Linked DNA regions of Homo sapiens: region 1 is linked to region 2. Evidence: fine-mapped expression QTL. Tissue or cell type: monocytes. Region 2 holds a variant in brackets; the other region holds the start of a gene. All regions are shown on one strand. Distances are between the middles of the regions.

Region 1 (5,445 bases), 88 kb before region 2:
GATAAGATCTTGCTCTGTTGCCTAGGCTGGAGTGCAGTGGCGTGATTATAGCCTACTGTAGCCTCAAATTCCTGGGTTCCAGCAATCCTCCCACCACAGCCTCCCAAGTAGCTGGGACCACAGGCACACACCACCATACCTGGCTCATTTAAAAAATCTTTTTAGAGACAGGGTCTCACTATGTTGCCCAGTCTAGTCGCAAACTCCTGGCCCCAAACAATCCTCCCACCTTGGCCTCCCAAAGTACTGGGATTACCAGCATGAGCCAACACACTCACGCCAATCAAGGTAAATTTTAAAATAATTTCATCATGTTCCATCTCACCTCACCCCTCAGATCATAGTGGTTTCTTGATCTGAATTTTACTAAATTTATAAAGTGAGTTGGGGAGACACAGCATCTTTGCACTGTTGAGACTTCCTGCCCAGGGATTTGTTATATTTTTCCGACTATTAAGATCTTCTTTTATGTCCCTCAGTCAGGTTTGTAGTTTTCTTTCCATGGACCTTCACATTTCTTGTTAAGCTTATGCCTAGTATATGCCTTATAGTATTCATTGCTAATGTGAATATGCTTTTTTTCCATCATACTTCCTAAATGGAAATAACTGGTATTTAGTGTTGTATTTGGAGGTCTCTGTAAGTAATACCTCCCTCCCTATTCTAAGTTTGGAACAAACTGGGGCATAGACACAGGAAAGAGACATAAGACAAAAATACTACCTTAATTTTTAATGAAGCTGACTGGAAAAAGTAGCTTTTGCTCTGTAGCTAAGTGGGCTTGCTATATTTCTCCCTGAATTGAGTAGATTTATTTGTGTAGTGGCGGGTGGTGCAGGAGAATAGTATCACTCTGTCCCTGAAACAGGTTCACTTAACCCACAGTGAGAGCGCATGGAAATATTTGCTCTCTGCAGTCAGCCAAATCCAAAAAGAGAACTCAGAAGCATCTATTCTTGTCCACTTTTTCCAAACTCACTCATCTTCCCTTAGAGTGGAGAGAGGCCAGAAGTCTTATTCTAATGGAAGTCCCTCTATATGGAAAAGAAGGCTTCTCCCTTCAATACCATAAGACAGGGTAAGGAAGAAAAAAAAGAATAATAATAATAATAATAATAATAATAATAAGAAGAAGAAGAAGAAGAAGAAGAAGGAAGGAGAAGGCTTCTCCCTTAACATTTAGGAAAACCATTGATTTTGGTGTTTATCTTATAACTGACCACCTTACCAAAGTCTCTATGATTTTTAGTTGATTTTTTTTATTTTTACTTTTTGGGAAACACTTAAATCATAAGCAAATAATGACAATTTTATCTCTTCCCTTCTAATATTTATATTTCTTATTTATTTTTCTTATCTTATTGCATTGGCTTTATTCTATAGCCATTATAGCAGGCATCCTTTTGACTGACTTACATGAGAATACCTTTAGTGTTTCACCATTAAATATGTTTGTTGATGGCTTCTGATAAACTTTGTCATGTTAAAAGTTTAAACTTTCTTCCTATAATAGTTTACTAAGAGTTTTTAGAAATTTATGGGTCATTAGTTTTGAAGTTTATAAAATACTTTTAAAGCATCTATCCCATTGATAATATCCTGTAATTTGTTTTCCTTTAACAATGCAATGCATTTACAAATTCCCTAATGTTGGATTTTTCTTGCGCCTCTGGAATAAATCTTGCTTGATCATGGTGGGTTTTCAGTTGCTTTAATAGTAAACTGGATTCAAATGGCTAAAATTGTATTTAATAGTTTTACGACTATTATATACTTAAATATATAGTGCAGATTCACATATTGAGGATTTATCAGTGAGCTTTAGAAGGTGGTCCTGGCTCAGATGAGTTTGGGAAATGCCAGGTTAAACAAACCAAACAGGTTTCTTTACTCCTGGACTTCACAGAGGCCTTCCTTAATATACGAATACTTATCGTGATTCTCCAAAAGGTACACTATAAACGGCATGCAGCACTTTCTCAAGTTGCCCACAGAAGCCCATTTTCAAAAAATAAATATTAAATTCTCTGGGGACTCGTGTTCTAGGTTAGTCATCTGCAGTTCTTTTTGGTATTGTCTGTTGGATTTTGGTATCAGGGTTATGCTAAACTTGGGAAATGAAATAAAAATTTTTGTTTCTTTTGTTTATTTTTTCCTGTGTAACAGTTTAAGTAACATAGGGATGATCTGTGCCCTGATGGGAGGATAAGGCTTGCTGTAAAGCCATCTGAACCCATGGCATTTCTGAGTAGTGAAGACACTGGGAATGCACACGTGCATGGCTTCCCTACAGGATGTTTCCCCCGACAGCCCATTCTGCTTGGCACCCTTCTCTTTAGGATCAAACAGCTATTATGGAAAAGCCTAGAATGTGTGAAAATGAGACTCAATGCATTAGCAAATCAATGCTGATCACTCCTGCATGGTCCTCAAGTCCTAACGAATGCTCCAGCCTCCTGGCAGGAAACCTTTCAAATCTTGCACACGCTGGCCTCTGCCTGGGGTGCCTGGCTGGGCGGTGTGGGGGGCATGGTTGGTTAAGGCGCAGAGTCCGCCTTTCCTACCAGCCACTCTAGCTGAGGGTCAAGCTCTGGACCCTCCCCCAACCATCCAGCTCCATTTTATCCTTGGCTTATGCCTTCCCCAAGTACTGCAGGGTAGGACTCCTGCTAAAAACTTCTTCTAGATGCTTGCCTGAGGCTGGCCCCATAAACCTGATTCTAGGCTTCTGGGGATAAATCATCTAACTAATATAAGAGAATTGCTAGGCAATTGGGGTTAGTTTGAGACGACTGGCTGAGCTCACCTTAGGTGAGCTGGGGGGTGGGGGAAGATGAGCTGAAGGATTCTAGGGTTCAGTGAAGCCTAGAATGGCTGGGTGGGCGGAGAGTCCTTAGAAGGGTCCAACTTCTAGCCTGAGGGCCTGGGGGCTTCCAGGGATCTGCAGCCGAGCGGAAGACCGGTCTTGCGTACAGCGAGGCCTACGAGAGCTAAGTGGGCTGAGGGTCCCTGGAAAAGACCAGCCTGGGGGCGGGGACCATCGATGCCCCAGGCTCTAGAGGCCGTGGGCTCCCGGGGGCCTGAGGCTGGACTGGGGTCGCCGGCGGGCTCGGGGAGGCCCGGGTGGGCGCACCGGGGCCCTGCCTGCGGCTGACGGGCTGGGTCGAGGGGGAGGCTGGGGAGGCGGGGTGCCGGCCGGGGCGGCGGCGCGGGCTCGGGACGCCAGGGCTCCCTCTCCCTCCTCCCGCCCGAGCCAGCCTCGGGCGCCGGGCGCCTCCCCCGATCCTGAACCAGCGCCAGCGCCGGGAGGCCCGGAGCCCGGCCCGCCGCCGCGGCCCGCGGAGGGAGCCGCCGCCGCCACTGCCGTTGTCGCCGCCGCCGCCAGGCCGCGCCCCGCCCCTCCGCCGCCGCCGCCGCCGCCGCCGCTCTCGGTGAGGCTCGCGCTCGAGCTGCGGCGCCGGCTCCTGCCGCCTGGGCCCCGGGCCCGGCCCCTCCCGCGCCGCCCGGGCGATGAGAAGCTGCTTCTGCGTGAGACGGAGCCGGGACCCGCCGCCGCCGCAGCCACCGCCGCCGCCGCCCCAGCGGGGAACAGTTAAGTGAGGCCCGGGCGCCGCGGAGGCTCGGCGGAGCCGGCCCTGCAGCCGGGAGGGCGGGCGGGCGGGCGCGGGCCCCCGGCCGAGGGGCGGGCGGACGGGAGGAGCCGGGCCGCGCCGAGGCCTGCGGGCTCCGTGCCCGGCCCGCGGCGGGGACAGGCCCGGGCGGCCTTTGCAGAGCCCCGAGCGCGCCGCGGCTGCCGGTGCCCGGGCTCGGCCTGGCGGCGAGAGGCGGGAGAAGCTGGGGGACCCGAGTGCCAGCAGCGCCCCCAAGGCCCGGGCAGGTGAGGGGCGCCGAGAGCCACCTCTGCCCGCGTGAGAGGGAGGCGGCCCACCTGGGCACAGACTGGGAACAGTCAATCGTTTGACCGGCCTGGCCTGGGGTCCTGCTCTCTCTGGTCACGTGGGTGCAGACCAACGTGCACCTGCCCCAGGAGCATCACTGCCTCTGTGACCTGGGCACAGCAGAGAGGACACCTAAACCCTCAGGCACCTGTCTGGAAGGTGACATGCCCAGCCTGGGTACCCGAGACCCAGAGCACCCATCCAGGAACATGGTGGGCACGTCGAGCACCCTACAGTGACTCCAACACCAGCGAGACGGGAGGAGCAGGGGCTGGGACAAGAGCTGAGGCATGGCACCAGGGGACATCACATCCTCAGAGGCAGGCACCAGGGAACGGGGTAGACCCAAGAGCATCTTTTGTCCTCTTTGTTACCAACACACAACTGTTCTAAATCAGCAGCCCTTCTCACCATGAAAGATGAGACTCTTCTGTTCCCTGCCCCTCAACACCTCTTGCACAAGGCACTGAGGAAGACCACAGGAGGGCAAAAGGCAAATGGTGGTTGCCCCTTCCCTGCTTCCTGCCCCCACCCAAGAACCAGAGCCCACTCCGATTGCTGCCACAAAAGCAGACAGCAGACCAGCTCCTCTTAGGGGCCTTTGTCTCTCGTGGTTCCTTCTCAGTATAATCTCATTGTACATTTCTCGACAGCTGGCTGGATCTCATCTCGTTTTAACAGGGCTGGGAAATCTTATCAGCGGCACCAGGAAAGCTTAGAGAGTTAAAAAATAAGCTCTGTGAAGCCTTGACTAACTGAAAAACTCAATGTGCTAGGATGTTTAGTTACAGTAGATGGTGACACCTTTCTTGCTTGTTAGAAATCATGTGGGGTCCTTGGAGATACTGTACCATGCTCAGAATCTTTAAATAGGGCCTCAGAGAGATGAGGCTTCTGCTTGGGACCCGGGCTCCAAGCCCCATGGGAAGCAGTTGACGTGGCGATTACTGGTTCATTTAAACCTAAACTTACCTTCTGTAATCCATATTTTTCATTCCTTCCTTCTAGGCTTTAGGTCACACTCCTAATTTAGGTTCAAGGCATTTTTCTTGCCCTGTCTCCATCCTGCTAGGGACCTTTTACCACTTCCAACTGGAATGTTGTGCCATGGTTATGTGCAGGGAGTTTAGAATTAGCCCTCAGCTTAAGTCTTGGCTTTCCTACTTACTTTGTGCCCTTGGACAAATTATTGAACTTTTCTGAGTTTCAGTTTCCTCATCTGTAGAGTGAAACTAATGATAGTATTCATCTCATGGGATTATGGCGTGATGTAAATGAAATTTTGCAAGAAAAGTCTAGCTCAGTGCCTGCTACATGGCAAGAAGTCAGTAAACGGTAGGGGTCATTATGAGAGGTTTGTTAACGGATGAATGAGAGGAGTAGCTTATTTATTTATTTTTAGAGTTTCTTTCTGTCTGCTTTTTTTTTGGTTTTTGTTTGTTTTTGAGACAGGGTCTCACTGTCACTCAGGCTGGAGTGCAGTGGTACCATCATGGCTCACTGCAGC
Region 2 (5,000 bases):
AAATGATAGTAAACTTTGCGCATGGTGGTTTCTCCCTGAGGTTGGCTCCAAAATCAATATGAAAAGAAAACCACAACTGAAAATATTTTAGAGCCTAGAGTGATTAAAATAACTGACTTTCTGTTTTAGCGGAAACAAGTTACAAGAAAGAATTACAATATCTCCTCACATCTCTGGGTCTTCACAGATCTCAATCGTAATTCAGAGCCTCACTTGGGAAACACAGGGGACTTGGAGCAGGAATCCTGGCTGTGAAGTCATTGAGGAGGATTCGAGTGTTAGTCAGGCCCTTCCAGCTGAAAATGATTCATTTTAATTACCTTCCAGGGTGATCCGATACCTGAGCATATGGTCTTTAAGAAATAAGGTTCCCCAAACTGTCAGCAAGTGTGGGCAATGGTCAGGGACCTCTTTCTGACACCATTGACCAGCCTTGGAGAGCGGGCGCTCTAGAAGGTGCTTATTAAAATGCCAGCAGGTGCAGCAAAGGTCCCCTTCTCTGTGACTCCCGCACCCTGCTTGTGCCAGGTGTTTTATAAGAGCCTTTTTCTTCATTAAATGGCATTCATTAAGCACGTCCTTACACCTGGCACAGAAGCTGTGCGTCACAGATGACTTCTTCCCAGTGGTGTTTGCAGGAATAATGTGGAATTTCATTTAGCCATTTGCTGTGTTCTTCTTCCCCTTCCTATCTTAACTTGATTTTTGTTGCTTTTCATATTTCTTCTGCTGCCCCCACAATCCATTCCTCTCCTTTGTACATGACCTCTGGTCTTTGTCCACCAGCAGACACATTATATAGAAAACAAGGTGTCCCTTCAGCACCAAGCACCACCACGCTGGATGCTTTCATACGTGTGTCTCTTCTACTCTCCCAACCACATTGAGAAGTGTTCCCCTAGTTTTTGCCATCTTTTTTTCTGATTAAAAGAAATAATTTCTCATCCAAAAAAATTAACACTTAAAACATATGGAAGAGCAGTGGGGAGAATCCACACTCCCATCTTAGAGGCTTCTGTCGTCAATACCGTGAGCCTCTCCTGCCCCTCAGTCACCTCTAAGTTACTCCCTCCAGCCCTTTGCTGTACTGTAGCTTAGCCGTGTGTGCCCATGGAAAAAAGATTGTCTTATGGGATTGTTTATAATACATCATTCTGCAACTTTGTTTTTGCTTGGCTGGTTTTTTGGTTTTGTTTTACTTAACAGCCAGTCTTTGGGAGTTGGGCATTTCTACAGAAAAATCTCTGGCTCTCTTCATCTATTCGTTCTGTCCTACTTTAGTATTATATGAAAATTCCACATTTTATTAGCCTCCTCTTATTGATGGTCATTGGGCTGCTCCCAGTTCATTGCCATGACAAATGCTGCCCCAAGGCCCTGGTTCCTGTCCTTTCCTTCCACAGCTGAGATCATATTCCATACACAGATCCCGAGCATCTCACTCCAACCCTCTCCACAAAGCCTGTAAACATCATTTTATGTCTGCATAATATTCTGAGTCAGACATAGTAACATTATTTCCAGTTTTTGAGTAGACCGTCATAATTAAGAGCATGAATTGTGTAATTGGCCCCATCAGCATTCAAATCCAAGCTTCTGCATACTCTGTGTTCAAGTCCAAGCTGTATCCAGCAGAGAGGCAAGCTGTGGAGCCTCTCTGAGACACCTGTGGAGTAGGGGGGGTCTCAGCAACTCGCCGTAGGATTGGGTTAGGGATCATAAGATGCATATGACAGGTACACGCTGTAAACAAGTCAACTGATGATATTTTTAAATTTTCTTAAATAGGTCATTTCCCACATTTCAGGTTCTTTCCTCAAATCTCAAAAAGGGAAGAATAAATGCTGGTCCTTTTGTCGCATTACTTCCCCTTTCTTAAGTATTAAATTTGAATCATCTGGAATGTATTATTAAGTGTTTCTCCTAGAGAAGGTGACATGAGTAATCTTCTGTTGTCTTCCTGCACAAAAGACAACTTGAAGTCATACAAAATTGCTGAATCACAACTATTTTCACCTTCAAAACTGGCTGCGTCGTCTTCCAGCATTTAGTATGGCAGAGGAAAAGTCTGAAGTCACCATCAGTATTTGCCAGGATGTATCCTCTTTTCATTGCATTTTCTGGAATCCTGTGAACCCCATTGG[T/TTGTGTGTG]TGTGTGTGTGTGTGTGTGTGTGTGTGTGTGTGTGTATAAGGGTTGGGAGATCAAAGTGGCAGGTGCCTCTGACTATGAGTGCGCCTCTGCCTTGCTAGTCACCACTCTCTCGACGCTGCCCTTTGACAGTCTGGGAGGACAGCAGGCACTGCAGCTGCCTGGGCAGAACCATCTTCATTATATGTGGCCACTGGGTCTACAAGATTAATGGTAACATTTTAAAAATTCACACAGACCTGGAATCAGCACTAGAAAATACAGATTTAAATTAACAAGGAAAAAGCAGAATCCCATCAAAGGAAATAAATCGTGCTGGCAACTATTGTCTCATAATAAAATATATTCTATAACTGAAGGGCTTTTATATGGAGCTGTCTGCAGCTTAGTGGCCATGTTAATTGAATAAGGTGCCTAAGACTGACTTGGGGGAAAAAATGAAATTCCCCTCAGCATGTATTTAGCTGGAGCCGTCATCGCTGGCAGTGCGTGCTTGCTGACCTGTTTGTTACAGAACAGCCAATCCCTCCTGCAGAGAGACGTGATGGCCACCAGAAGCAGCAGGGTGAGAGCCCTGTCTCCTCCGGGCAGTTCCGTGGGCAGGGGGAAGGGGAGGATAGCTTGGTAACACTCCCCGAGGATTTAGGGACTGTTCCAGTTACAATTCTCCAGTGACCAAACAGATTTTGGAATAATAATCCATCATTTGAGTCAAGTGGCAGACATGGTTGTCCTCTGATGGACAGCCCTTGCTCCAGGGGTCCAAGACCTACTGGGGAAGGTGCCAGAAGGCCTTCACCTCCTGGCACTATCCTAAGTAGAGACAGTTTCTCGAGCCTTTGAGTCTCCTTCTCCTCAGTCTGCTGGGGAGCTTTATGAACTCTCCTAAAATCTAAACTCATGGATCTGCCTACAGAGTGGTCAACTTCGGGCCCACTAAAATGACTCCACTGAAACTGCTGTCCATAAGTGCACCAGCCACCATCATTCTCGTGGACCTCTCAGGTTTTTTTTTTTAATTTTTATCTATTTATTTATTTTGAGACTGGATTATAAAACTGGCTAATTTTTGTTTGTTTGTTTGTTTGTTTTTTGGTAGAGATGGGGTTTCACCATGATGCCCAGGCTGGTCTCAAACTCCTGGGTTCAAGTGACCCACTCGCCTCGGCCTTCCAAAGTCCTGGGATTATAGGCATGAGCCCCCACTCCCAGCCGGCCTCTCGGTTTTGTTTGATGCTGTCGAGTACCTACTCATTCTTATAACTCCCTTGGCTGGGAGCTGCAGAAGAGGTGAGTGTCCAATGCCAGTGGCCTAGTGCAGCTCCTGATCTCTTGCTTCCTCCCTCCTCCAGGTACAGGGTCGTGATCGGGGCCTTCCTTCAGTCTCTCCTTAGACAATCCAACCTGTTTATTCTCATGAACCAGAGGCCTTTGTATGGGAAAGAAGCCAAAGAGTATTGGGTTAACTGACCACGATTCCAAGCATGAAAATAAGGACTTTCTGTCTATGGATGCCAGTCCATAGACACTGGATGCTGTGGTCATAGGCATAGGCACTGACCAATAAAGAGTCTTCTAAAATATTTTAAAAGACAGCCAAATATTTCATGAAACAGTGGTACCACAATTTTTTAACCAGTCCTCCATTGTTTGATTGTTCATCTGATTCTAGTTTTTGGCTTTATAAGTAGTGCCGTGATGAATTTATTGTTTACGTAAAAATATCGTGAATCAGAAATAGTTGCATTTTCCAAGCCATTAACCAACCCAGTCGTGGGGATGAGAAGGAGAGAAGAGACAAGGCTTCCTGGAAGTTTCCCGAAACTATCCCTAATTATAAGTCAGAATCAGATCAACAAGTAGTAGGTAATCTTAGAGGATTTTCCCTAATATTTGTTAAGCGCTCACTGTGTACTGGGCATTGTTCTCGCCCCTGGGGATGTGGTGGGAAGAAAAGGTGTGGTGGAGATCATGTTCTGGTGACATGAAAACAAGTCAGACAGCCCGATAGAGTGGGAAGGGCGCCACAGGGAGGAGGCAGGTGTTATAAGAGTGTGGCGGGGTGCCTCCTCAGAAGGGTGGCCTGACTGGGGAGGGAAGCCAGCCGCTGAGATCTGGGGACAGTGGCAAGTGCAAAGGCCCTAAGGCAGGAACAAGAGCAGAGGCTGGAGGAACAAAAGCGGCTACTGAGGTTGGCAGACGTGAATGCAGGGAGGGTGGACAAGATGTGGTCAGAGAGGAGGGATGGGCCAGAGCTGGCAGCACTTCTCAGCCGTGGGCGGGTTTGGATTTCATCCTGATGCAGAGGAAAGGCCCCGTGGGTTCTGCTGTGGTGCTGCATGGAGGCCCTCATGAGCCAGACTCTAAAATAATGCCGGGGTGGCAAGAATGGGGAGAGTGGGAGTAGGATTGAAGCTCGCGTACTTGCATGTGCTCACGCATGCCTGGTTCCGTGCTGTCAACCCTGCCTGCATGGTGGCCCTCTGTGCCCTGGGAGGCAACACACCCCTGCCAAAGGCCATGTGACTCCCTGGTGCTGGCGCTGGGATTTGGACCCACATCCAGCGGACTCGGGGGCACTGCCCTCAACCACTACAACTGGTTTGCCTCCCTGGGTGTGCGATCGGGCCATTGGTCATCCAGCTCTGTATAGTTCACTGTAACCTGTCGGGATCACTGAGCTAGTGAGCGGCAGAGATGTCATGTCCCTGGCATCACTGATTTCAAAAGGGCCTTCAGGAGGGACCCTGTGGCCCTGATTGAGTAGTCTCATTTTATATACCCGATAGTGAAGCTGAATCGGGGTAACTCTAACATAGCGATAACCACCTCCGGAGGACACATGGACTGACCTCTTC

Which allele goes with the higher level. Positions count from the first base shown, and alleles are read on the strand shown. Sizes are in standard deviations (SD) of each study's normalised expression.
For the expression in monocytes of the gene that starts at base 3,410 in region 1, T is the high allele of the variant in region 2 and TTGTGTGTG is the other (large effect, 1.0 SD a copy in CEDAR).

Evidence for each region.
Region 1: MVB12B starts here. The variant in region 2 is fine-mapped to the expression of MVB12B in monocytes (CEDAR, PIP 0.95).

The regions. Positions count from the first base shown.
Region 1 is chr9:126,323,420-126,328,864 of GRCh38, forward strand. MVB12B (multivesicular body subunit 12B) reads left to right here and starts at 3,410. Exons shown (of 10, transcript NM_033446.3): 1 at 3,410-3,591. The coding sequence starts at 3,511. RefSeq lists a silencer at 3,395-3,534 and an enhancer at 3,976-4,627.
Region 2 is chr9:126,411,674-126,416,673 of GRCh38, forward strand. The region is part of intron 6 of MVB12B (multivesicular body subunit 12B); the gene reads left to right. Among named protein-coding and RNA genes, the nearest start is that of NRON, 3.7 kb to the left of the region's middle. RefSeq lists an enhancer at 4,015-4,607. The variant T/TTGTGTGTG (reference allele first, on the strand shown) is at 2,145.